Homo sapiens: one gene and its partners. The protein of the gene in region 3 purifies or fractionates together with the protein of the main gene of each other region. This does not show direct contact. Each region holds a gene or a part of one and is shown on either strand. Other genes may lie near its edges. The genes, in order: SLC25A15, VPS54, TXNDC2 and SLC25A31.

Region 1 (7,040 bases), on a different chromosome or scaffold from region 3:
GTCTTAGTTATTTCAGTAGGAGTTTGAAACCTGATTGCAGCTGCAGGTCCCACACAACTGAATTCGGTTTCTTGTGCACAGCACTGTTCTCTGGAGGTGCCTGGAGGTCTGAAGGTGTGCCCTTTTATAGACAGGAATTCCACCATGATGGGTAGAGCTTGTTTTTTAAAAAGGCTTGGGACTAGATACGATTGCCCAAGAAGACAGTGTAGACAGCGAGGAGGGCTGAGCATGAATGGGATGAGCCTCCAGCACAGAAAGGGCAGGCAGGAAGGCAGTAAAGAAACAAGCAGGGCACAAACCAGGAGAGTATGGCATGCCATGATGGAGACTGAACAGAAGCAAAAACTACAGGCAACTGTAGTTTTGTTCCCTGTTGAAGGAGAGACACTCTATTAGAGAAGACCTGGAATTCAGTTCAGTTTCCTTAGCAAAGGACAAAATGGGGAGAGAAGACAGGGAAACAGTAAGCAGCCACGTGAGATTCTGGGGAAGACCTGTGTCTTCTGAGCAAAGTAGCCCCTCCAGCCACAGGATAGACAGTGACTTCTGTCTTGCATGAGTGAAACCACTGGATCTGGCTCTGCCCGCCCCTCCACTTTCTTGCTTCCTTAGCCTGTGAACAAAGTGAAGGACAGGTAAGAGCATATTGCTTTTCTGCTGAGAACAATCTAATACCTTACAGCTGCATTTTCCCACACTGCTTTCAGAACATTGAATTGCTGGGTGTCCTTAAGAAAGGGTTGGGAAATTACGTCACAGTGTCTCTCTCGTGAAGAATCACTCTGGGTACATTTATTTCATATAGTGTATGTGTTATTTAGTTCATTAAAGATGCGTAAGGCTGGGCACAGTGGCTCACGCCTGTAGTCCCAGCACTTTGAGAGGCTGAGGTGGGCAGATTACTTGAGCCCAGGAGTTTGAGACCAACCTGAGCAACATGGCAAAACCCCGTCACTACAAAAAATACAAAACTTAGCTGAGTGTGGTAGCACATGTCTGTGGTCCCAGCTACCAGGGAGGCTGAGGTGGGAGGATTGCTTGAGCTCAGGAGGCAGAGGTTGCAGTGAGATGATGCCACTGCACTCCAGCCTGGGCAACAGAGCGAGACTGTGTCTCTCAAAAAAAAAAAAAAAAGAAAAGAAAAGAAACCATCCTGATTAACCTTGTCTAATCCAGCACTCATCTTTTTTGAGCTTGGGCCCGTTTTTTTTTTCCATCCTGAGGAACAGTGTTTGCCTCTTACCTGTTGGGGAAATGCTCTCTTAGAGTCTACAAAGCTCTGACATGTATATCATGTCTCTATAGCCCTCACCGTGATCCTGTGAGAAGAGCAAGGCAGATGTTACCTCTCTTAGGGATGGAAAACTGAGGTGCCGATGTTGACCTGCTCAAGGTCACCCCGCTAAGGACTTGAAATTGTGTCCTCTGAGCTCCTGCCCAGTCTCCTTTCCATCAGACCACAGTTGGGGGTCTGGAATATTTTATAAGGGTCAGTTCTAGAGAGAAGATTAATCAGGAGCAGTGAAAGGAAAGAACTGCTTGTGAGAGCCTGTGGTGAATTTCTGCAATCACATTGTAAATATTTGTCTGTTCCCGGTTTCAACATGACCCAGAATGTTCTAGTTTGACGTTTGGCTGGACAGGGTCTTACATAGCAGGAGTGCTCAGGTACATGTTTGTTGAACATATGACAAATGGATGATTCTTACAAAATCCCATCCTATACCTATTACTGTTTCAATTCCAGTTCTACACATTCATACTACATGCAGAACCAGGGGCCCATGCACCTCCTTCTGTGCACTGGTCAATGAAAGTATTTATTGGAAAGCCAAAGTCCACTGCATATCTGATTTGACTGTGTCCTTGCACTATAATAATGTGCTTGGTGTTCATTCAGATGTCTGAGCCATTATTATATCTTAAACTCAATAGACTTCTACATTTATTGACTGCCACCTTTGTCCTGGCAAACTTGGCAGATCCTGGTTAATGCTCCTAATTGACTATTGCCTGTCAACAGGTTAACAGAGAGTCCCTGAGGGAGGCCAACTGTGGATCTGCAGGCTGGCTGCAAGACAACAGAAACCATTTTAAGCTTCAGTTCTAACAAGCTGCTAAGGAGTGAAGTGGGGGAAAGGAGTGGACTGAACAGCATTGGATGGTTTCCACACCCCATAAAAGCGTGTGCAAGTACATTTGTGTACCTGGTTCTCCTTTGCTAATGGTTTTAGGCTTAATTCTCTAACATCAAAAGGAAGTCCTTACTGCAAACAGTGTCTTCCTACTGAAAGAAAGCTCCACTCTAAGCCAAGTCTTCTGAAAGAGTTGCCTCTGGCCATGGTACAGAAGCTAGACCACCAGGGACTAGCAAACCAGGGCCAAGACTGGTGCCACCTTGATTTTATACTAATCTTTAACACTGGAAAAACTTGAGTACCCCTGAATATGGTAAGTCCATCTGTGCTTTTTTTTTTTTTTTGAGACGGAGTCTCACTCTGTCGCCCAGGCTGGAGTGCAGTGGCGCAATCTTAACTCATTGCAACCTCGCCTCCCCAGTTCAAGCAATTCTCCTGCCTCAGCCTCCCGAGTAGCTGGGACTACAGGCGCCCACCACCATGCCCAGCTAATTTTTGTATTTTAGTAGAGATGGGGTTTCACCATGTTGGCCAGGATGGTCTTGATCTCTTGACCTCGTGATCTGCCCACCTCGGCCTCCCAAAGTGCTGGGATTACAGGTGTGAGCCACCGTGCCCTGCCCCATCTGTGCTTTTGCTCACAGTTTGGAGAAAAATTGTTAGGGGATTATATCTCTACCTGAGTAGTTAGCTGAGGAGATTCCCACCCACCCTTAGGGGTTTTTGGAAATCTCTGAGGGTGATCTTGGCTGTCCAGTGAGAGCATGATGCTGGCATTGAATGGGTGTCAGGGAACCAGTTCAGTCCTTCCTGCCCAATGAAGGATTGTCCTACCCCCAAATGCCAGTCATGATCCCATGACACAACACTCTTCTAGGGCTGGAAGGGATCTTCTATCCCAACTCCCATGAACCAGGAACTCGCAGAGAAGCCTTTCTTCTGAAACACTTCTCAGACTTTTCCCCGTATTCGTTTTTTTTTTTTTGAAAGAGTCTCACTGTGTCACCCAGGCTGGAGTGCAGTGGCATGATCTTGGCTCACTGCAACCTCTGCCTCCCTGGTTCAAGCGCTTCTTGTGCCTCAGCCACCAGAGTAGCTGGGATTACAGGCGTGCACCACCAGGCATGGCTAATTTTTAGTAGAGACGGGGTTTTGCCATGTTGGCCAGGCCTCAACTGATCTGCCTGCCTTGGCCTCCCAAAGTGCTGGAATTACAGGTATGAGCCACCACGCCTGGCCTCCCCATATTCTTGAACTCTTACTGGATTCCAGTTTCACAACCCTGCTGGTGACATTTGGCTGCTGGTACTAAATCCATACATGAGGTGAATGCTTCTGTTTTGTATTTGTGCATTCATCCCTCTGCCTAGTTTAGATTTCCAGTTTAGCAATTTCACCTAATACCATTGAGCTTGCAGACTTGTACTGGCTTCACCCACTCCTGTGGCACCATTTTACCCTCGTCTGTGTTGCTGAGGTGGTAGGTCACCAGTTGAACTGGAAAATCTTTTTGTGATGCAGCAACTTTTGGTTAAACGTTTTTTCTGGGTTTTCATCTGTGGCAGTTACATTGCACATCTGGTTGCTCCAGGTTGGATTGTGGGCATGTGGGGATAGGCTTAGAACCTAGATTTATTTAAAACTTAGGGCAGACACACTGAAGTATTAATAGTGCATGTTTTTCAGTGGGGGACTATGGGCAATATTTTCCTCCTTTCCTTTAGGTTTTTTTGTGGCGTTTTATTTTGTCATGTCACGATGTATCTTGGCTTTGGCTGTTGTAACAGAATACTACAGATTGAGTGGCTTAAACAAACATTTCTCACAGTTCTATGGTCTGAAAAGTCTAATATCAAGGTTCCAGCAGATCTGGTGTCTGATGAGGGCTTGTTCTTAATTTGAACATAGCCGTCTTCTCACTGTGTCCTCATATGGCAGAGAGTGAGCGAGCTCTCTGGCCTCTTCTTCTAAGGGACTAATCCCATCACAATGGCCCTATCCTCATGACCTCATCTACACCTGATTACTCCCAAAGGCCCCATCTCCTAACACCATCACCTTGGGGGGATAAAATTCAGTCCATAGCGCTGTGTGTAATCAAAAGAATATGGTTGTTGCAGTCAGGAAGACCTGGGTTCACATCCTAGCACTGCCACTTAGTAGCTGTGTGACTGGCCACATTATGTCATCTCTAAGTGTCACTTCCCATAGGGAACTGGGGTGCTGCTGTCTGCTTCATAGGGTTGTGGGATCCTTAGATGAAACAGCACATGCAAGTTTCCTTCCTTTCATCATTTTTTTTTTTTTTTTGAGACGGAGTCTCACTCTGTTGCCCAGGCTAGAGTACAGTGGCACAATCTCAGGTCACTGCAAGCTCTGCCTCCTGGGTTCACGCCATTCTCCTGCCTCAGCCTCCTGAGTAGCTGGGACTACAGGCACCCACCACTACGCCCGGCTAATTTTTTTTTTTTTTTGTATTTTTAGTAGAGACAGGGTTTCACCATGTTAGCCAGGATGGTCTCGATCTCCTGACTTCGTGATCCGCCCGCCTCGGCCTCCCAGAGTGCTGGGATTACAGTTGTGAGCCACGGCGCCCGGCCCTTTCATCATTTTTTTAGACATGGAGGTCTCTCTTTGTTTCCCAAGCTGGAATGCAGTGGCTGTTCACAGATGCAGTCATAGCACTGTAGCCTAGAACACATGGGCTCAAGTGATCCTCCCACCTCAGTCTCCTAAGTAGCTGTAATCACAGGTTCATGCCCTCACGCCCGGCTCCTTACCCTGCTTTATCACCAAAGTGCTGTCTGTGTGGTGAGTGCCAAAGGAATGAAGAAACTGAGGGGTAACTGTCTGCTTGTGTGCTTTCAGTGATCTGCAGAATGCAGCCGCCGGTTCCTTCGCCTCTGCCTTTGCTGCACTGGTGCTCTGCCCCACGGAGCTCGTGAAGTGCCGGCTGCAGACCATGTATGAGATGGAGACATCAGGGAAGATAGCCAAGAGCCAGAAGTAAGCACCACTTGGGCACAAACGTCAGGTCTCTATTGCCCTAGTGTATTGGATGATTTTTCATTTTACATTGTACTAAAGTGGCAGATGTGGAAGCCAATTTATCTACTCCAAAATATTGTTTCTAGAATGCTTTCCCCTATCAGAGATTTTCTGAAAGGATTGGCTGTGATGGGACCCACCACCCACTGCATAAAAAGTCTTAGACAGATATTTAATACCCCAGAACTGGAGAAGCCAGGAGCTTAACACCCTTTTTGGCCTCTTGGAAACATAAGGCATGATCTTCAGCCATTTTTGGAGGTACATAATGGGTGGCTTTTGAACTTTGCCTTAGACCTGAGCCTTCATAAGTGCCAATTTGGATTCTGAGATGAATATTTGATCCCCACTTCAGGTTTCGTATGGGTATTCAGGCTGATTGACCCAGATCCTAGAGGTAACTATTCTTACCCCACTTATCCCCAGTCCTTCAAGTGTACCTGCAGATGGCCCAAGTTCTGAGAACATTAATCAATACTTTTATAAGCATAGCTACTCTTCAGTGATTAAATCACTCTCTAGCTCACTCTTGAAAACACATTCTCATTATCCTTTGAGAGTACTGTTTCATACACAATTTGATTTACTTGAATTGGAAAGCAATTTATTATCCTTATTAATTGCAAAACTTGCTTACTTATCTTGACATCTGGCTGAGTTCTGACCAAGGATATTGCTGTGGTTAACTCAAAGCCTATAAATCTGCTGGGAAAAAGCAGTAGATAAATTGACCATTTTCAAGGATCAGTCCCCACTCAGTGAGAATGGGGTTTGGAAAAGTGCCCTATTTTCTGCACCCTTGAGATTCATTACAGCCAACTTGAATCTAATATTCATTGCCTAGAAGTCCAAGAGTGTAAGTCTTTAAAACTTTTTATTGAAATAATACACATAGTATCATGAATGCACATTGAAGTCACAGTATGCAGCTCTATAAATAGTGACACAATTTATGTGCCTTTGTAACCTGTGTCCAGATTAACAAATAGAACATTAACAACACCCAGAAAGCTGCCCTCATGTTCCTTGGAAGTAATTCAAGGTAATTAAAAGATAGTAATAGTTATATCCAAAGGACTTAGGCAGATCAACACCTTGAATTATCAGTTGACTTTGTATTTGAGGTCTAGCAGTGTTCACACAAGGCATGGTATGGTAGCTTGGGGCTAAGACTCGGATTGGAAGGGAGGTTAATTGTGTTGAGCTGGATTACTTTGTTACATTCCATGTAGCAGTGCTGCAGGAAGGGCTGGCTGATGGGGAATACCTGACAGTGTCTTCTGAAGCTCTCAGAAGGAAAATAGTTTTTAAATGTCTGTGGCCTTTATTACCTTGGGACTTGATCCTTCATCTGTCCAAGCCAAGTCTCCTTCTTGCTGAGAACAAAGTGAGGAGAGAGGGATTCACTAAGTTGCACTGAGTATGTGATTTCTTGGCCTGTTCTTAGCAGGGATAAACCTGCCCTGGTTGCCCTCAATCATGAAGGGGAGTCAGACAAAGAGTGTCCTGTGTTCTGGCTGCTACAGGAGCAGGGCTGCTTAGAAGAAATTCTCCCGCATCCCTGGTGCTCTGAGAAATAAATTCTTGGTGCTTCTGCATAACAGGAGCTATATAACTTGTTCTCAGAATTTGTCTTGTCTTCAGACAACATTTACTCCTTCACTCATTTCTCTGCACTAAAAACAGATCCTGTAAACACCTGAACAAATTTCCCAAAAACACACCAGAAAGATTGAGGAAATAGGAATCACAGCGATAAGGGACTGGGCAATACAATGCCATTTTATGTTTGCTGAGTTTAGATAATTCCTTACTGTAAATAAATTTCCTTCCCACAGAAGGATGCCGTTG
Region 2 (8,333 bases), on a different chromosome or scaffold from region 3:
TTTTGATTCCTACCAGGTGGGAGAATAGTCTCAGTGGGCGATGTTTGGTGAATTAGATTAACACCTTAGATCCTCTAGCAACTAACTCTATTTCTTTGCAAGAGGAGGAATTGAGGGAAAAATAAAAGGAAATCTGTTTACGACATGACGCAGATACTGTTTCGTATGTTTAGGTTGTCTTCAAATCTGAAAAAAGAACCCCTTTTTTTCTAAAAACAGACTTAATTTACTGCAAATTTGGACTACTATTGTTTTGAATTGTTATTTTTGCATATGTTTTTGAAATTGTAAATAGAATATAGTCATATCTTTTTTATCCAGAAGTGATTTTTTTTTTTCCTGGCAGCTTCAACTACCAAGAAAGGAGAAGTAAGCTAAGTGTTTAACTTTATGGATAACACTTATGTTATATATGTATGTATAACACTTATGTTATGTATGTATGTATGTATGTTGTGAATGTCCAGAAAAATTCCAAGCTTATAATGAATCTTTTTTTCCCCTATGAGCTCCACTTTAGACTATTTAATGTTTTTAACAAGCTTAATTTGTTGATGAAAGAAGGTAATTGACAGTTGAGATCACTTTTGCTATTTATCATCCATACCTTATGGATAAGTTACTCAAGTTATTCTTTCTGAGCCTCAGTTTTCTCATCTATAAAATAGGGGTAGTGATAATCCATGTATTACAAGGCTATTGTAAGAATTATTAAATGAGGTAATATGTATTAAGATGCAGTGTCAACTATAATATACTGTAGAAGAGTTATTCGCTTCAGAAGAATCAAATTAGGAAGGAATATAGAGGTTGTCAAAGGCAGGAATGTAGATAGTAAGGCGGAGAATAGTGATGGCTGACAGCCTCTCTAGGGAGGAGAGAAGCACTAAATACAAATATTGATAACAAACTAGTAAAATAACTAGTATATCACTATAATCTGAAACTCCTTAATATAGGGGCAAACTGACTTCCTTCTGTAGCACCTGAGAGTATCACCGTTATAGCACAGTAAAATAACTGATTATTATAATGGTGAAATTAACTTATTAAGAAAAGATTACCTTGTTTTCAAATATGCTATTTGAGAAGACTTGAAAATATATATATTTTACTTCAGAGTTAAAATTTTTGGAAGTGACTTATTCAAAAAGTTTTAGTGTTTTTAAGAGTATGCTGTCGTTATTTGGATTAATTCCCTTTTGGGGAATAATCCTTTTGTCTTCATTTACTATGCCTGCCTTCCTGTGTATTTGAAGGGTTTTTCTATTATCTGAAGGTAATTATTCTTCAGATGTGAGAATTTAACTGAAGAAATAGGGGTTGTAAGCCTGCTCACCATTTGTAAAATCTCATTTCCTTCTAGATTTCTTTTAAAATTATTTTTCATCTTTCTGGCGTGTCACTACGCCCAGCAAATTTTTGTATTTTAAGTGGAGACAGGGTTTCGCCATGTTGGTCAGACTGGTCTCGAACTCCTGACCTTGTGATCTACCTGCCTCGGCCTTCCAAAGTGTTGGGATTACAGGTGTGAGCCACCGCGCCTGGCTGGTTTCTTAAAATTTTGTTAACTGGTCACCTTTCTTTCAGAATCATATAAAAATAAGGGTAGAGGTGGTCAAAGGCCCAGCTATTCAGTAAGATTTTTATGGGGTAATTTGAGGGTGGAATAGTTGCAGACAATATTCAGAATAAGTAATGTGGTATTGATTGGTATTATATATGATATATATATATCTCTCTATATGATATATATATCTCTATATATGTGATATATATCAATATATAGATATATATATCAATATATATCTATATATTGATATATATTTATATATAAATGCTGATATATATCATATGATATATATTGATATATATTTATATATAAATGCTGATATATATATCATATATATATATCAGCATTTACTTAATAACATTATTTGATGTATACTCTATACTTAAATCTTCCCATTTGTCCCAAAAATCTTTATAGCTTTTTCCCCCCTCAAATGCAGGATTCATTCAAGGTTAATGCATTGCATTTGGCTGGTATGTCTCTTTAAGTCTCCCCCAATCTGGACTAGTCCTACCGCCTTCCTCTCTTCTTTAGGTTTATCCATTGAGAAGTAGAGACCATATGTCCTGGAGCATGTTCCACATTCTGAATTGGTCTGTTCCTCATGATTAGATTCTAGTCAGACATTTCTGGTGAGACCATCACACAGATGATGTGTATTTCTGCTGTATTACATCAGGAGGCACATGATTTCAGGCTATCACTATATCGGTAATGCAAGTTTGATCACTTGGTAAAGGTGAACTGACAGATCTCTCTACTGTTTAATAAATAATTTATAGAGGATACTTAATAGCCATGTAAATATCCTATTCCCTGACAACCCTTTAACCAGTGATTTTGGTACCCATTAATGATCCTTGCTTGAATCAGTCATTATGTTGGAGGATTACAAATGGTAACTTTTCTTTTTGCATTCCTTCTACTTTTATTACCTTCTTTGACTTTTTCAGGGCATTGAGGTCAGGTTAGATAAATTCTGAATATAGGCCACGGAATGTAGAAATCAGGTCATTCCTAACCTTTTCTGGAGCCAAGTAAATGGTGAAGATGGAAGACAGCTAAGGAAGTAGACCAAAAAGAGAACGGAGGTTTGCCAATGAAGGGGAGGTGAGAAGTAGTAGCTGGAGGAGGCAGGGAGGAGGGAAAGGGCCTTCATTTGGTGCTTGAAATTTTCTTTTCTTTTTTTTTTTTTTGATGGGCCGATGAAGAGATTAAAGATAGAATTGGGGAATAACTAATAGAAAAAGGTCCCAGATGAAGCAGGAAGAGGTAAGATCAAAAACAGCTGTTGGGGGATTAACTCTGGAAAAGAGTAGACACCTATACTCTATCTCAGAAAGTTAAGAGTTGTGTATAGATGAGAATTAGGTACATTTGGATATGAACGGAAAAAACTACATCTGGGGACTTTTTTTTTTTTTTTTTTTTTAAACAGTTACTTTTTGAGCCTTGCGTTGTTGGAAGTAGGCTAGGGGACTTGAGGAGAGTGATGAAAATGTTCCACATATTGTGGGGAATGGAGAAGAGAAGTGTTTCAAGATAAATAAGTGAAAGAATTGCTGAGCAGCATCAGAGGCTCATCTGAGATTGGAACTCATAAATTTGTAATCAGCATATTTTACTGTTTTTTCTGGCAGTGTTCTGCAAGCAGGAGAAAAGCAAAGACACACTGTATTGAAGGTGGATGAGGGAGGAGAGATGCAAGGGAGATGAAGTAATGGGGATGTAGGCTAAGTAATGAAGTTAGTAAAGTAGAGCAGGGCTAAGATAGCCAACCAGTGGTGAGAGATGCAAGGGTAATGCCAAGGAGTGATTAATTAAAATACTAATTTATTGTTTGTTTGAGGTTATAGTAATCATAAACCCTGTATTTACTTTTCCCTTAAACTAACATTTAATATTTTTATTTGTAAACTATTTACTGACTTATTGCAGATGTTTCTTAGCTATTTTGCTTTATTTTCCCTAAAATGAAAATTCCTTGAAAGCATCATCTTTGTTACTTAATAAGTATCTAATAGTTTATATATTTGAGACATATTTATTCTTCAGTACCTCTGAATGAGAGATTTTAAGATTATCTTGCTAATATTTTTGGCTGGGACACCAAGAAGAGAATACCAGTGTCTAATATGGTTCATTTTGACTGACAAAAATTTCACTAGTAATACAATCGTATCAGTGGCCCAAAGGAGTAAGAAAGCATCCAAGCTATTTTTTGTTGTTGTTGGAATTTTTACATGCTAGAGACAGATTTTATCTTAGTATAGTTTATTCATATTCCAGGCCTGTGACCCTTAATCAATTTTTTTTTTCTTTTGAGATGGAGTCTGGCTCTGTTGCTAAGCTGGAGTGCAGTGGTATAATCACGGCTCACTGCAACCTCCCCGTTCTGTGTTCAAGCGATTGCTCTGCCTCAGCCTCCCGAGTAGCTGGGACTACAGGCGTGCACCACCATGCCCGGCTAACTTTTTGTATTTTAGTAGAGACAGGGTTTTACCATGTTGGCCATGATGGTCTGGATATCCTGTCCTTGTGACCTGCCTGCCTCAGCCTCCCAAAGTGCTGGGATTACAGGCATGAGCCACCGTGCCCGGCCTCCCCTTAATTTTAATGGCTGCTATAATGTTATAATTCTCTGAGTGCTGGGGAAAAAAAGACATTGCTTTTATTTGGAATAATATCTAGACTTAAAAAGTATATATTTTATGAGGATATTTATGATTTTTCTTCCTGATAAAGATATCACATGAAATAGCATTTGTTTTATAAGCCATTTAAAAATATTTAAATTTAACATTACAAATTGTTATAATTTTTATCCTCCTAGTCAATATTATTTCTTATTGTTTCTTGTCACTAAATAAAAAGTAAATAAGCAACTTTAGGAAGCGCATGCATTCAGAGTTTCCTGCAAAGCACAGGGTTTCATAAATGCCATATGAGGATGTAAAGAAAAAGAAAATTAGATTACTACAACTTTGTTCTTATTTTCTGGGTTCCTTAAGCCTCTTCCATACTTCTTTAATGCTCAAGAGGACTATAGAAGTACTTATTTATATGACAGCCCCAATGTTAGTATTTCTTGAGATTATGTTTAAATTGTACCTTCAATATTGAGATTTTTGTGAGCAATAATATGTGATACGCATTTTAAAAAAATTTAAAGATTTTTAAAAATTATGATTAAACTAGATTTTGTCAAATGATAAATAGTGTAGAAGTATATTGCTATTTGTGTATAGGTAGTATGAAAAACTTACATTTGCCAGAAATTGGCTTTTACATTTCAAAAATGTTGTGGAAAGTACTTCTTAGAACATGAGATATTTGATGTATTTTGTAGGCAAACAGCAAGAAACCAACTGAAGGATGAGATTAAATAGGAACAAGAAAAGGTGGTGGAGAAAGGAGGGGGCAGAGTTTTTACTATGGTAACATAAACTCCTGAGTTCTGTCAAACTGATCTTTGGTAGGACATTACAGTGTGGTTAAGTTTTTCTTGCATATTATCAGTACTTGTAAATTTGGAGAAATGAAATTTGAGATTTTTTTGTTTGCTTTTAAAAAAACAGCAGTCAGTTGTGGACTTTTAAAAAAATTAGGTCCAAAATTGTATCAAAATTATGTCAAAAAAGCTCTGTCCAGCTCCAGTGTTAAAAAGAAATTCCACTTTATCCATGTTTTCTCAAATTATAAATAGACTTTTTTTAAAAAAGTTCATTTATAAGTCAATTATATGGGGCCAGGCGCGGTGGCTCACGCCTGTAATGCCAGCACTTTGGGAGGCCGAGGTGGGCGAATCACCTGAGGTCGGGAGTTTGAGACCAGTCTGGCCAACATGGTGAAACTTCGTCTCTACTGAAAATACGAAAATTAGGCAGGCAAGGTGACAGGCGTTTGTAGTCCCATTTTCTTGGGAGGCTGAGGTAGGAGAATCAGTTGAATCCAGAAGCAGGAAGTTGCAGTGAGCCGAGATCACGCCACTGCACTCCAGCCTGAGTGACAGAGCGAGACTGTCTCAAAAAAAAAAAAAAGGGTCAATTATATGGAATTCAGAAGTTGTTGTTGTTGAAATGGCCTCTCTCCACTGCCTTGGTCAGAGTGCAGTGATGCCATCACAGCTCACTGCAGCCTCAACTTCTTGGGCTCAAACTTTCTTGAAAGTGCTAAAATGATGCGCCAAAGTAGTATATTTATCCCACGTTACAGGTGCACAATTACTCCTTTGGTAAGAAAAATGCAGTAAATTACACTGATGAAAATGTAGGCTGGGCATGGTGGCTCACGCCTGTAATCCCAGCACTTTGGGAGGCTGAGGCAGGCGGATCACCTGAGGTCAGGAGTTTGAGACCAGCCTGGGCAACATGGTGAAACCCTGTCTATACTAAAAATACAAAGATTAGCCGGGTGTGGTGCTGGGTGCCAGTAGTCTTAGCTACTCAGGAGGCTGAGGCAGGAGAATCGCTTGAACCCGGGAGGCGGAGGTTGTTATGAACTGAGATCTTGCCACTGTACTCCAGTCTAGGCGACACAGCGAGACTCCATCTCAAAAAAAAAGAAAAGAAAATGTATAGTATCTTTTTTCTTTTGGAATAGTCCTGGTCTTATAAAATTGTCACAATTAGATGTTAATTATTTCTATCATTCAATAGAAGATGAACATAAGTAACAGTTATGAGAGTAAATAATTATTGATTCAGTCATTGATCTGATAAGGAGACAAAGACAGAAGAGGAAAGCACCAGGAGCCTGAAATGGGTGGGAAGGAGTAGTGACATAATTTAAAATTTTTTTATTGGTGCAGAGACAGAGGCATGAAACTTAGAATCAGAAAATCTGAATTCAGATTCCCTCTTCACAGTTAACTCACTGAATGGTCTGAAATCAAGTTACTCTAGAACTTGTTTCTTCATTCATATAATGGAGATCGTTGATTCATTGATTCATTCAGAAATATTTTTCTTACTAGGTTATTTTGAAGATGAACAAAAACATCTGAAAGTAAGCTATTATGAACTGTATAGTGTTCACTGTATTTGACTGTATAGTCAGATATTAGTGATGATGCAATTCTTCTTGTCTTTCCATTTCATTCTTCCCTGTCATCCTTCCTTCTTTCATTGATAGCGTATTTTTACATGCTCTTGATCTAGCGCTTCACAGAACCTTCAGAGCCTGCAGTCCCAGCTGATTTCCACTCCTCCTCCCACTCACACATTGGGCACAGGAGTAGGGTGTGAGGCAACTTTTCTAGGTCAGCCTGCTTATTTTCTCACTGTTGACTGACAAAGTCCTGTCTTTCTCAAGGTGTGACATAAACCTGAGGTGCCTTTTAGTCCCTGGGCTTGATATTCTTTCTTTCTCACTTTGCCTCTCCTTTTCCCATCCCCTCTCGCCCCATTCCTGTGTGTATGTAACTCTGACCATCTCCTTTCTCCACCACTTACTTGTTCCTTTTTTTTTTTTTTGAGACGGAGTCGCGCTCTGTCACCCAGGCTGGAGTTCAATGGCATGATCTTGGCTCATTGCAACCTCTGCCTCCCAGGTCCAAGCGATTCTTGTGCCTCAACCTTCTGAGTAGCTGGGATTACAGGTGCATGCCACCATGCCCGGCTAATTTTTCGTATTTTTTGTAGAGATGGGGTTTCACCACGTTGGCTAGGCTGATCTTGAACTCCTGACCTCAGGTGATCTAACCACCTCGTCCTCCCAAAGTGCTGGAATTACAGACATGAGCCACTGCGCCCGGCCTCTTGTTCCTCTTTAATCTCACCCTTCAATTGGCTTCTTGCTGTTTGCCTACAAATATGGTCAGGTCTCCGATAGCCTAAAAGATTCTTGCTCAACTCTTGTTCTTTTTTTTTTTTTCCTTTTACCACCAAAGAGATGTTGATATTGTTGCCTTTATTACTTCATCACTTACCTCTTAACCTCAGTGGGATTGCTTCTTCCCTAACCACTGTCCTGAAACTGTTCTTAATCCAGTATCCTTTCTAAAGTTAGTAATCTCCTTGATCTCTTTGCAGCATGTTGATGCTACTTACTGTTCGCACTTTACTTCCTGACACATCTTCCCTGTGTAAGGATGGTATTTCTGATTGCCTTTGTCTTTTCCTCTAAACATATTTGCCCTACCCCTTCTTCAGAGCTTTCATTAGCTCTCTTCTTCGGCACTTTCTCCATTTGTAATATCACTTTCCTGTGACTATCTGTAGTTATCTACTAATTCATTCCTGTAATGTAATTGAACTAGAAGCAGTAATGGAAAATTCAGGGAAGCAGGATTCTGTTCACTACAAGAATATTTTTTCTCCAAAGTAATTATGGTTGTTTTACAGTAGTACTCTGCTTTTAAAGTAGTTAATTCTTCATTATTGAAGTTTTCAAGTAGAGGCAAAAAGACACCTTGTAGAAAGGATTTATATATGAAGTAGAAAGTCAAGCCAGATATTCTTTTAAAGTCTTGTCCAACTCAAAAATTGTAATTTTTATCTCGTCTACTCTACTTCCATGGACTTAACTTTGACCTATGCTCAGATGTCTTCCAAACCATTATTTCCAGTCACTCCCCTACCACCTCCTCGTCTGTCTTCTCTCCCACGGGCACAATTTTGTCATCAAAGTTGCTTATGTTCTAGGCCACCATATTTTCTAGCTTCATTATCACTTTCCAATATTCTTTTTACCCCCTTTAGTGGCAAGGCAATGAGGATCATTTTTCTATGCTTTGGTGACTTTTCTGAAAGTAAGTTAT
Region 3 (9,025 bases):
ACAGGACTCTGGTAGCACAATGTTTGGGTTAACTGGTTAAAGTCTAGGCCTATATGTCTAGGCTGGTAGAGTCATGTTGAAGCTAACCTTGTTCATTATGGAAAATAAGAACAAATTTGATTGAAAAAGTCAGAAGAAGGTCTCTCTATCAGAGGGAAATAACAGGTGGATATATGCACTGTCACTAAAAGCCCATTTCTATGAAAATGCAGTACACCTGAATCTAGAATCCTCTCGTTGAAAAGCCCTTTGCCATTATGGCTTCAGCTTTTACTGAAGAGTCTTACCAAGAATATCCACATGAAAAACTGTCCTGAATTTATTATAGAAAAATCTTGTCAAGAACTTCGTTTATCATCGAAGTCTCAAATGTAGTGTCCAAGATGAGAAATGTCATTCAGGAATTTAGTTAAGGAAAAGCTTTGACTCTTTTGCAAATTCCTAAGCCTGCTTATTTTGGGTGATGACATCTGGGTATTATTGAATTTATCTCTTCTCTCTCACTTGCCAAGAGTTCAGAACAAAATTTGCTGCTCTAACAGAGCCATGATACGAGCCCACAGAGTTGACACGTTACTCACTTCATGGCTCTGATTCCTCTTTCTGGTTCGTTAGCTTTATCATTAATCCTTTTGTAGGCAATTCCAAATTTTTTTGGAAAAAAGGCCAAGCATATAAGGTATTTCATTTTGTTTGCAGTTGTTAGGCCATTGTTAAGGGTGCAAATGAAGCCTATAACTGAGGTACCACTAAGGAGAGTCACGATAGGCACATGATGGAAGGAGATGGGGCAGTCTTGGTCCTCTTTTTTTTTTTTTTTTTTTTTGAGACACAGTCTCACTCTATCACCTAGGCTGGAGTGCAGGGGCACGATCTCAGCTCACTGCAACCTCTGCCTCCCCGGTTCAAGTGATTCTCCTGCCTCCTCAGCCTCCTGAGTAGCTAGGATTACAGGTACCTGCCACCACACCCGGCTAACTTTTGTATTTTTAGTAGAGACAGGGTTTCACCATGTTGGCCAGGTTGATCTCGAACTCCTGACCTCAGGTGATCCACCCACCTTGGCCTCCCAAAGTGCTGGGATTACAGGTGTGAGCCACCGCGCCCAGTCCCAGTCTTGAACTTAAGATAGGGATTGCAACTCAGCTGGCTAAGTGAAGAAGCCAGCCAGGTTCTGCAGCAGAAGACTGGAGAGAGTGCGCCCTATCAGATGGAGGCAGCTGCCGCTCAGACCCGAAGGTTAGATTGGTTTTCTTGAGGTAAGGCAAGCCTGGATTGCCAGATCTTACAATTTTTCAAGAAAAGCTAGACATCTAGATTTTTTTTTTAAATCCTGATATTTGAAATGTTGGCAACAAATTCAAATTTTTAAAAACACTCTGGACCAGCAAAAAGTAGAATGGTGACTGCCAGAGGGTGGGGGAAGGGGCAACGGGGAGTTGTTCGATGGGTGTTAAATTTCAGCCACACCGATGAGTAAGTTCCACAGATCTGCTGTGCGGCATCATGCCCCTAGTTAACAGTACAGTACTGGGCACTTAAAAATGTGTTAGGAGAGTAGATCTGTTAAGTGCTTTTACCATGATAGTAATAACAATAAAGCACAGTGACACAAGGAAACTTCTGGAGGCAATGAAGGTGTTAATTACTTTGATGGTGGAGATGGCAATCAAGGGCATATGCAACACATCCAAACTCATCCAACTCCCTCCATTAAATATGTGCTGTTCTTTGTATATCAATTATACCTAATGAAGCTGGTTTTATTCATTTTTAAAAACCCACTCTGGACTAAGCCTCTGTCTATGGTTCAGACCTGGGACTTTGGGCTCATAGACATCTGGGGCTCACTAAGTTGTCCAAACAAGACTCTGGTAGCACTGTGATTAGGTTAATTCATTAAAGTCTAGGCCTATATGTCTAAGCTGGTAGAGTCATGTTAAAGGCTGGCTTGTTCAATATTGAAAATAAGAACAAATTTAAGTAAAAAAGTCAGAGGAAGGTCTAGGTATTATGAACTCAATTACCAGGGAGACGAACCAGGAACTCTGCCATCAGGGCACTGATGTCATAAAGGCAGCAAAGATCCAGAGGACTTCAACCTCCGAGAAACCTGAAGTTCCGACCTCTTGTCTGAGATTTTGTGAGCGTAGATTATAGTAGGTAGAGCCCTGGACTTGAAATCTGGAAGCGGCCTTGATCTCATTTCCGTCACCAACAAATCAGATCTTGGAAAACCCACTGAATTTCCCAAGGCCTCCGTAGCACTTCCGGCACAAGAAGGAGGTTAGCTAAGATGTGAATCTTTCAAATTCCTTATTTCCAAACATATCTTATCAGAATCCCCAAAGATGTGTGACATGAGAAAAGAAGTTTCCATTCACCTTTCAGTCATCTACCTCTATAGAAAAATTATCTAAATTTTCAGTCTTGCTGCAAACACTAAATGCGTGAAATTTTCAAAGACAAGTGAAAAATAAATACATATCAAGATTGAAAAATAGGAAACCATGGGACTTAGCAGTCTTCACCATGGGAATTTCTAATTTTATACTCTCCCACTAACAGAAACACAGTCGCAATGTACTTTAATGCTTGGACTGTTTTTTGAAAAGGGTAGAGTTAATATTATCATGTACAAGCAGTGCCATTTGGACATACACTTTTGTTATACCTGATCACTTTGTGTAAATAATAAAAGAGAACTCAAAAGCTATAAACACCTGACTGTCTGCAATGTTTTCAGAATACATGTTTACTTTAATTCTGCAATGACTGCTTCAAGTTTTTCCTTAAGGGCGCCGCAAAGTTCATCCACCTTTTCTTCTTTTTTATAAAACTGAAAGGTTGGGACACACATGATGGCGCACTCTCTCACCACCTCCTCACAGTTGTCAGCGTCCACCTCCAGGAACACCACATCCTCATGCTTCACAGACAGGGCATGGAAGAATGGTCTGATGGTCCTGCAGGGCCCACACCACGTGGCCGAGAAGTCCACAGCCACCAGCCTCTCCCCGGCCTCCTTCAGTGATGCCTCAAAGTCCTCCTTGCTCAGGATCACTTTCACCTTGTCCCCCTCCGGGAACTCCATTGTTTCTTCTTCAGGCTTTAGGATGTCACCCTCCTTGGATGGGGTGGCTTCTTCTAGGGACTTGGGGCTGTCATCCTCCTTGGGCTGGATGGTTTCTTCTGGGGACTTGGGGATGTCAATCTCCTTGGGTGGGATGGCTTCCTCTAGGGACTTGGGAATGTCACCCTCCTTGGGCTGGATGGCTTGTTTTGGAGACTTGGGAATGTCACCCTCCTTGGGCTGGATGGCTTCTTCTGGGGACTTGGGGATGTCACCCTTCTTGGGCTGGATGGTTTCTTCTGGGGACTTGGGGATGTCACCCTCCTTAGGCTGGATGGCTTCCTCTAGGGACTTGGGGATGTCACCCTCCTTGGGCTGGATGGCTTCTTCTGGGGACTTGGGGATGTCACCCTCCTTGGGCTGGATGGCTTCCTCTAGGGACTTGGGGAGGTCACCCTCCTTGGGCTGGATGGCTTCTTCTGGGGACTTGGAGATGTCACCCTCCTTGGGCTGGCTGGGCTTCACTGAGGCCTTGGGAATATTGCCCAGCTTGGGCTGGATGGGCTTTGCTGAGGACTTGGGGATGTCACCCTCCTTGGGCTGGATGGTTTCTTCTGGGGACTTGGGGATATCACTCTCCTTGGGCTGGCTGGGCTTCACTGAGGTCTTGGCAATATTGCCCAGCTTGGGCTGGATGGGTTTTGCTGAGGACTTGGGGATGTCACCCTCTTTGGGCTGGATGGCTTCTTCTGAGGACTTGGGGAGGTCCTCCTTCTTGGATTGGATGGTTTCTTCTGGGGCCTTGGGGATGTCACCCTCCTTGGGCTGGCTGGGCTTCACTGAGGCCTTGGGAATATTGCCCAGCTTGGGCTGGATGGGTTTTGCTGAGGACTTGGGGATGTTACTCTCTTTGGGCTGGATGGCTTTTTCTGAGGACTTGGGGAGGTCCTCCTTCTTGGATTGGATGGTTTCTTCTGGGGCCTTGGGGATGTCACCCTCCTTGGGCTGGATGGTTTCTTCTGAGGACTTGGGGCTGTCATCCTGCTTGGGATGGCTGGTGTTTGCTGAGGACTTGGGTAGGTCATCGCCCTCCTGTGAGGCATCAGACTCCTCTGTGCGCATGTGGAACGTGTGGCTGACCATGGGGAGAAAGGCCTTCTCTTTGGCCTGGGCTATTTCCAAGAACTCTAGGGCCAGGAGAGGCACGTTGCTGGACAGGACTAGTAATGAGCTTTCTGTACCAAAAAACATAAAATAAAATAAAATAAAATAAATCAAATAGAAATGCAAAAGAAGAACCAAAGAAATTCTCTTCATATTCCAAGGAAGACTGATGTCACTCTTCGAGATCACGAATGAAGTCTGATGAATGATGTATTAATCTGAAAAACTCATTCAGCAGAAGGACAAACAGCGTGTGGTTACACGTATCTTCTGTATACATGTTCTTAAGCTACAACTTTCCCTTCTTGGTTCAACACCCTGCCCGCTCCCTAACTGCATAGGTCTTTAAGGCAACCCTCTTTCCTCCCCTACTTACCATTAGCATCACCTTCACTTGTTTCTTCCTGAGTGCCCAGCCTCATTTCTGGTTTTCCAGAGGCTCCAGCTTTAACACTTTCCATTCCTAGTTCCTTGTCTACATCCATTCCTGATCCTTCATAGATGCCTCATAGTAAAGGCCGTACCCTCCAACTTTTTCCAAGCTATCCATCCTAACATCAAAATATGAGTAAAACTTACATTTGGGTGGCACGTTACAGTTGGTTTTCCCTCTCTGTATTCACAACAGTGATATTTGAGAGCTTCAAGGTGGCTCCCCTGTGCTGAGGCTGGGACTACGCATTCACTGGCATCATTTCCTAGAACACAACAAACCACTGAGGTCAGAACCATTATGATGAGTAGTTTACACATGAGAAGCTATGTAGCTCACTTAAGGTCACAAAGCTAGGGTGGGGGCAGGCTCCAAAGCTCATGCTCTGCACTGTGAGGCTGTGCTGGACTGCTCGCCACAAGTCCCGTCCAGCCTGGGTTCTGTGAATCAACCATCTTATCATCTTTCTCCAGGATCCCCCAGCTCCAACATTCTCTTTACGACTCACCCATTGTGACCAGCTCCTAAGTATCTCCTCGAAACCATGTTAGCCTCCTCTGCAAAGTGTCCCACAATGTCAAATGTTCAGCTCCTGCTAGACAGCCTCTTTCCCCACCTCCCCCACCTCCCAGGCGCACCAGCCCAGCCTGTGCCCTCCCCCATGCAGACACATCCAAGTACACGGCTCTTCCAGCCTTTACATACAGGAGAACAACCTCTTTGTGAATAATCCTGGTTCCATAAGCCACATCTACCCCATCCTGTGGAATGGGAAGCCAAATACCTGTCCCCCAGGGAGACTTATTTTATTAGTTCAGGACCACTGGCTCATTTTCCACCCTCACTCTGCACAACACATCCAGTCCAAGGCAGGAAGAATCAGTGTGGAATTTTGCCTTCTCTACATGTACTTTGAACAAATCCTCATATGTTTCAGTTTCACCCCAACAATATAAGTGTTGAAAGTGGTCAGGCATGGTGGCTCACACCGTGATCTCAGTACTTTGGGAGGCCAAGGTGGGAGGATTTCTTGAGCCCAGGAGTTTGAGATCAGCCTAGGCAACATAGCAAGACCCCATCTCTACAAAAAATACAAAACCTAGCCAGGCACAGTGGCACACGCCTGTCCCAGCTACTTGGGAAGCTGAGGTGGGAGGCTTGCTTGAGCCAGTGAGTTCAAGACTGCAGTGAGCCGTGATCACTACATCGTACTCTAGCCTGGGCAACAGAGCAAGGCCCCGTCTCTAAAAACTAAAAATAAAAGTGTTGAAATCTAAATGATAAGACCTCCACATTGTCAATAGAAACCTCGAAACATCTAATGGCAATGGTTCAATTATCTGGATTTTTATACCAAAACACATTTTACTAAGGGGTAGAGAGACTATTGGCCTTAGCAAATCCATAGTTCCTTTTTTTTTTTTCTTTGAGACAGTCTTGCCCTGTCACCGAGGCTGGAGTGCAGTGGCACAATCTCGACTCACTGCAACCTCTATCTCCCAGGTTCAAGCAATTCTCTTGCCTCACCCTCTCGAGTAGCTGGGATTACAGGCATTCACCACCACACCCGGCTAATTTTTGTATTTTTTTTAGTCGAGACAGGGTTTCACCATGTTAGCAAGGCTGGTCTCTAACTCCTGACCTCAAACGATCCACCTGCCTCAGCCTCCCAAATTGCTGGGATTACAGGCGTGAGCCACCATGCCTGGCCCAGCAAATCCGTAGTTCTTGATGATATGAATCCTGTTCCAGGAAGAGCTCATGCTTCCACTCCGTTTCCTCGGTTACTGCCAAAGAAAGCTCTTCCCTCTCTCACTGGGAGACTTTGGGCCTTTCTTATGTGATATTTTAAAGGACGGGAGGTTGTCTTCACTCTCCAATGCCAACGGCTTCCACAGCTGACAGGACTGTTTTTCATGGTGCCCTATTTTAAAGCAGAGGATGAAAATAAACGTCAGGCACTTATCTGGGCAATGTCTTCTTTCTTAGTGTTAGGAGAAAGGAGGTGAAGCGGGGAGGATAGGCATCATTTGCAGAAACCATCATGAGCAGATTTTATTAGCACAAAGTGGGCAGCATCTTTGGCCCTTGCTCATTGGTAAGTTAATTTACTTCCTGGGACCCTATCTTGTACAGGGTCCCTGCTGTTTGGAAGGGAGTGGATGAGGACACAGAGGAACTCCATCGCTGAGAGGCAGAAGTGAAAACATCACTCCTGCCATCCCAGTAGATGTGGAGGCAAGAGGACAGATGCCTGTGTCCCGGCCTCCTTTCTCCAGGTTGATTGCCAGCACAGATACTAATCAGATGTGCTACTCTACTAAAAATGCGATTTTAGATCTCTACTAAAAATACGAAAGTTAGCCGGATGTGGTGACAAATGTCTGTAATCCCAGCTACTCAGGAGGCTGAGGCAGGAGAATCGCTTGAACCTGGGAAGCAGAGGTTGCAGTGAGCGGAGATGGTGCCACTGCACTCTAGCCTGAGCAACAGAGCAAGACTCTCTCAAAAAAAGAAAAAAAAAAAAGATAAAAAAAGACTTGCAGCTGAAAGCAGAGGGGCATCTGCCTCCTGCTCCACTTGGAAGGCCAGGATGAGCCCACGTGGACTTCACATCCAACACAGCACTGTCCTCGTGCAGCGTGGCCCCTAGTAGAGGGTAAGAATGGATGTGTGGACCTGGGGCAGGCCCCACAGCCTGCAGGGAGGAGGTTAAAGATCTAGCAACGATGTACACCTCAGAGAGTGGCTGGGAGTGCTCTGAGACTGGTGAAAGATAGAGGCCTAGAGGAAGAAGACTCAGAGGAGGAGGATCTGTGACCAGAGGCAAGGACTGGAATCACAGACTCCAGCAGTGAGTAACATCACGATGCCCCTGTCCTAAATGGAATCAGTGGGTCCTTCAAGAGATCTCAGGCTGGGGACCAGGCCAGACCAGCCAATTCACATGGGAAACCAGCACGGGACCAGAGCACCCGGCACGTTTATCCGTGTAGCCCTGGGCATCCAGACACTATGGACAAAGTGAGAACTCTGAAAGATTGCACCGCTACACCATGGAAAAGGGTTCTTTGAGCCAAAATTCCACAAACAGGCAAACTTAATTCGGTTTCCCTGCTCCTCACCATCCCACCCCAAAACCCATTGAGATAAGGCTCATGGGAAGGATGAGCCATTCTAGAGAAATGTATAAGTGATATTGTACCTGAATGTCTTAGTAAAAGAGAGGAAATCTGTGATCCTGTTACATTTATACTTGGAGATCTTCGTTGTGTTTTAGGTTTGGCACTTGTTCCTGATATTTTTACTCTTCCTTCTGCAATTCAGATGAATTCCAAGCAACTTGAAATATTAATTCTTCCACTGACTTGTCATAAAATGTATGTTTTCCTTCAGCAGAAGCTCATTCCCAAATAGCTCATGAGCCCTTATGTCACTCAGGTTGTGTCTCAGGAAACAGAAACAACCAGCTATTTTAGGCCTAGGATTATTTGGGCAATTATAAAACTGCTGGCGAGGCTGCCTGTTTAGGCTAGGTATCCCGGAATGATTCCCAGAACACTGAGCAATGATACAGAACAGGCTTGCCAGGATCATTACAACCTCCAGGATATCAGGAAGATAGGGAATTAGAAGACCACCACCCAAACTGTTAGCTTTAATAACCTTCTGCTACAGCCACCATCCAGGGGTGAGTCCGCCCCAGCCCCAACTCCCTCTGAGCCCAGAGATGGAGATGAGTTCTGGTCATCTGTTCCAACCCCCACTGAACCCCCGCAGACTGAGGCAGAGCTGATACTGTGGCCTCCTTCTCAAGAAGGTTCAGCTACTGGTGGATGCTAATTCATACCCAGCGACTCAGCTGCAAGGGAGTCAAGGGAACATGACTTTTTGTTCCCAGAAGGAACAAAGAAGGACACCAGAAGGAAGTTGGAATAAACACTGCATGTAAAGCCATTTCTACCACACCCTTACAAAGACAATATTATGCACAAAAATTTTTGTTTTTTGAGATGGAATTTCACTCTTGTCGCCCAGGCTGGAGTGCAATAGTGCAGTCTCGGCTCACTGCAACCTCTGCCTCCCGGGTTCAAGCAATTCTCCTGCCTCAGCCTCCCCAGTAGCCAGGATAACAGGCGCCCACCACCACGCCAGGCCAATTTTTGTATTTTTAGTAGAGACGGGGTTTCACCACATTGGCCAGGCTGGTCTCGAACTGCAGACTTCAGGTGATCTGCCCACCTCAGCCTCCCAAAGTGCTGGGATTACAGGCCTGAGTCACTGTACCCGGCCTATGTATGAATTTTTTATATCTTTTGCTGGCATACATTTTTGGTTTATAATTACAAAAATAA
Region 4 (3,500 bases), on a different chromosome or scaffold from region 3:
ACTCTATGCATAATGCAAGTTTATCCCAAATTATTTCATTTACAAATGAACATCTGGAGTACATGTTTATAAATTCAGGAACACACACATACACATTAGTAACAATTACTTGAGCACTAACTATGGTGTAGACACATGTTGAATATTTTACATGCATTATCTTCTTTAATCCTCACAACTACCGTATCAGATAGGTATAGTTATTATACCAGTATACCACTGAGGGAACTGGGGCTGAGAAAGGTTAAATAAAAACTGTTCAAAGTTACAAGATATAGGAAAGGCTGAGACTTGGTTCTAGGTCCATTCGACTCGAGGTCTAGAGTTACTGCACTTCTATTGCCTCTATATAAAAATCCATTCTGGATAAAACAGTATTTTTTGGTTAGAATAAAACAAGGTTAAAGCAGAAGTGATACAATGGCAGGAACGTTTTGACTCTCTAGTCATACAGAATAAATGGATGGTTTCTTAATATATATCACAAAATTGGTAGAGAAAAATATAGTGATGGTGACCTCTTTCTCCATTAAAAGTAAAATAAATAAATAAAAGTTTAAGTTTCTAATTCCTAAGAAAAAAATTTCTTCAAAATTTAAGAAGGATGAGAAAAACCTGCTCTGAACCTAATTTTGAACAAATAAATAAGAATTGAAATAAAAGTGACAGGAAAAAGTTACTGGGCCATTTATTGGCTGGCCTTGCCAAGAACAAGAATGTTAGGCATTCACGCCTGTAATCCCAGCACTTTGGGAGGCCGAGGCGGGCGGATCACGAGGTCAGGAGATCGAGACCATCCTGGCTAACAAGGTGAAACCCCGTCTCTACTAAAAATACAAAAAATTAGCCGGGCGTGGTAGCGGGCGCCTGTAGTCCCAGCTACTCGGGAGGCTGAGGCAGGAGAATGGCGTGAACCCGGGAGACGGAGCTTGCAGTGAGCCGAGATCGCGCCACTGCACTCCAGCCTGGGCGACAGAGCGAGACTCCGTCTCAAAAAAAAAAATAAATAAATAAATAAATAAATAAATAAAATAAAAGAATGTTAGGCATGTTTGGATATACAGTCTAAACCAACATTTTTTTTTTTTTTTTGCAGGGGAGGTTCAACATGTTTTGATGATATGCCTATCAATTAAAAAAAAAGTCTGCATGACTTCCAAATAGTATACATTAATAAATTATATACCTTTGCAACTATACTACCATATTATGTACATCTGTAAAACATACTCAAAATATAAATTAAAGAATGAGATAAAGATTTTTCATTTAAAAACTTTTATTTGGTACCTCCTCCACAGCAGACATTTTGTGCCTACTGGGGACAGCACTAGGAACAATGTTCCTGATCTTATGGAGCTTACATCTTAAGAGGGAGGGACCAGGGAGACAGGTAGCAAATAACTATGTCTGTTAGCAATAAAAAACTGTAAACAAAAAAACAATATATGAAGATTGGGAATAATAAAAGGCTATTTAGATAGGGTTGTTAGGGAAACTTGAATGTTAGATGATATTAGAGCAAAGTTAAACATTTATTTAAAAGATGAAAAACAATATTTTCAAACATCTTGCTAATTATGATGCTTTCACACCACCATTTACTATTATCTCAAGGCACTGTTAGGGTGAAGTTCATTTTTAAGAATAGTATATAGGAATCTATATTTCAAATAGTCTTCTTGTCTCAGGTCCAATTAGACTGTCATTGTTTCTACACTGAATGTCATGTGAATGATGAAATAATACGCCATTTCTTGGAGTAAATGGCATCAGCTTTTTCTTGTGGTTCATCATTTGATATTGGTGTTACCCTTGATTTGGTTTTCACGGCAGAATCTTTTTCAAAGTTTTGTCCATGTTTTGAGGATTTAGTTAAAACCTGATAATAGAATCTATAAATCCAGTTAATTGGGCAAACATAAACAATAATATATTATTGAGGAAGGGTGCTTGTCATTCCCTCTACCTTGTGTAACTCCCACTCTTTTTTTCAGGATCCCTTAATGTCCCGTGATATGTAACTGACATTGGGCCCAAGCATAGGGGACAATGCCAATTTATATATTAAATATCAGTAAAATTTATTTTTGTATTTTACTTAAAGTACATATAAATAAAATACCTAATATTTTCTTCCCATACCCCAAAATAGCATCTTCAAGATGGACCCTAGGATATTAAAAAACCTCACTGTTCTAAGTCTTCAGAAAAATGGGTTTGGGAAAAGCTTAGATGAAAGCTGATAAACTCGTGACACGGAACTCCTAAAAGAGAAGAGTTTGGATAGGCTTGTAAAAATGAGACTGTACGGATCTTTTTTTTTTTTTTTTTTTTTTTTTTGAGACAGTCTTCCTCTGTACCCAGGATGGAGTGTAGTGGCACGATCTTGGCTCACTGAAGCCTGTGCTTCCCAGGTTCAAGTGATTCTTGTGTTTCAGCTTCCCAGGTAGCTGGGACTATAGGCGTGCGCCACCATGCCCAGCTAATTTTTGTATTTTTAGTAGAGACGGGGTTTCACCATGTTGGCCAGGCTGGTCTTGAACTCCTGGCCTCAAGTGATCTGCCCACCTCTGCCTCCCAAAGTGCTGGCATTACAGGCATGAGCCACCACACCCAGAAAATCAGTTCTTTAAAAGGCTACATTTACAATATACTAATAAGACAGTTCCTTTGATTAAACACATATTTACATATGTATATTTTGCTCAGTGAAAAACCAAAATGTTAATTGTGGTGACTTTAGCAGTGATGTTACTTTTTGCTTCTTTATATTTTCTAATTTTCTACAATAATTATGCATTATTTGCATAATAAAGGTTTAAACAGTGTTAAATAAAAGTACACATACAAAGTTGGCAGGTGATAAAACCAACTAAAGAATATAATAAATCTTTAAGAACAACATAAGGATAAATCCAGAAGCTTTCATAAGCCAAGAAAAGCTTATAAAAAGTGTCAGAAACACTCAAAGTGATATTTAAAGCTATATTCAAGGCAAGAATGCAGAGATCTATTCTTGTAATGGAAAGAAAGTAGAGATAAGGTAAGAAACTAGAGAGCATCTAGTTGTGCATTCTGTGTTCATATCTCTTTCTCCAGCTCATTTCACATGGCCTAAAGAAAGGAAAAGTTGTGAATAAAATTAGAGAAAACATAAAAACAATCTTCAGGACACCTGAGATGTGCATGTGTCTTGACTTTCAAAAAAGAAAGAGAAGGCAAATTGCAAGAAATTTATGTTTTAAAATAAGGAAGTTGGTAGGTCATGACCATACCAAAAATATAATAGTCAAGCTTGCCTCTACTTATAACGATTCAGTTGTAATTAACTGCATATTGACATTTTGAAATACGTCAAATAAATATGTGTACAAGTATACATACAATCATCATAGATTCAATAGCTACAAATACAGATGACACAGGTTGAGCATCACTAATCCAAAAATCCAAAATTCTCCAAATCTGAAACTTTTTGAGCACTGACATCATGGGCA

Evidence for each region.
Region 1: the proteins of TXNDC2 (region 3) and SLC25A15 purify together in Homo sapiens (affinity purification with mass spectrometry; one large-scale study listed by BioGRID and IntAct). This does not show direct contact.
Region 2: the proteins of TXNDC2 (region 3) and VPS54 purify together in Homo sapiens (affinity purification with mass spectrometry; one large-scale study listed by BioGRID and IntAct). This does not show direct contact.
Region 4: the proteins of TXNDC2 (region 3) and SLC25A31 purify together in Homo sapiens (affinity purification with mass spectrometry; one large-scale study listed by BioGRID and IntAct). This does not show direct contact.

Annotation. Positions count from the first base shown.
Region 1 is NC_000013.11:40,800,109-40,807,148, forward strand, and holds part of SLC25A15 (mitochondrial ornithine transporter 1), read left to right. Parts: exon of another isoform or gene 1-616; intron 617-5,009; coding exon 5,010-5,147; intron 5,148-7,040.
Region 2 is NC_000002.12:64,007,128-64,015,460, reverse strand, and holds part of VPS54 (vacuolar protein sorting-associated protein 54), read left to right. Parts: intron 1-3,006; exon of another isoform or gene 3,007-8,333. UniProt on the Homo sapiens protein: Acts as a component of the GARP complex that is involved in retrograde transport from early and late endosomes to the trans-Golgi network (TGN).
Region 3 is NC_000018.10:9,881,872-9,890,896, reverse strand, and holds TXNDC2 (thioredoxin domain-containing protein 2), read right to left. Parts: upstream 4,925-9,025; 5' UTR 4,817-4,924; exon of another isoform or gene 4,723-4,816; coding exon of another isoform or gene 4,614-4,722; intron 4,309-4,613; coding exon of another isoform or gene 4,217-4,308; coding exon 2,756-4,216; 3' UTR 1,622-2,755; downstream 1-1,621. UniProt on the Homo sapiens protein: Probably plays a regulatory role in sperm development. May participate in regulation of fibrous sheath (FS) assembly by supporting the formation of disulfide bonds during sperm tail morphogenesis.
Region 4 is NC_000004.12:127,733,400-127,736,899, reverse strand, and holds part of SLC25A31 (ADP/ATP translocase 4), read right to left. Parts: intron 1-3,500. UniProt on the Homo sapiens protein: ADP:ATP antiporter that mediates import of ADP into the mitochondrial matrix for ATP synthesis, and export of ATP out to fuel the cell.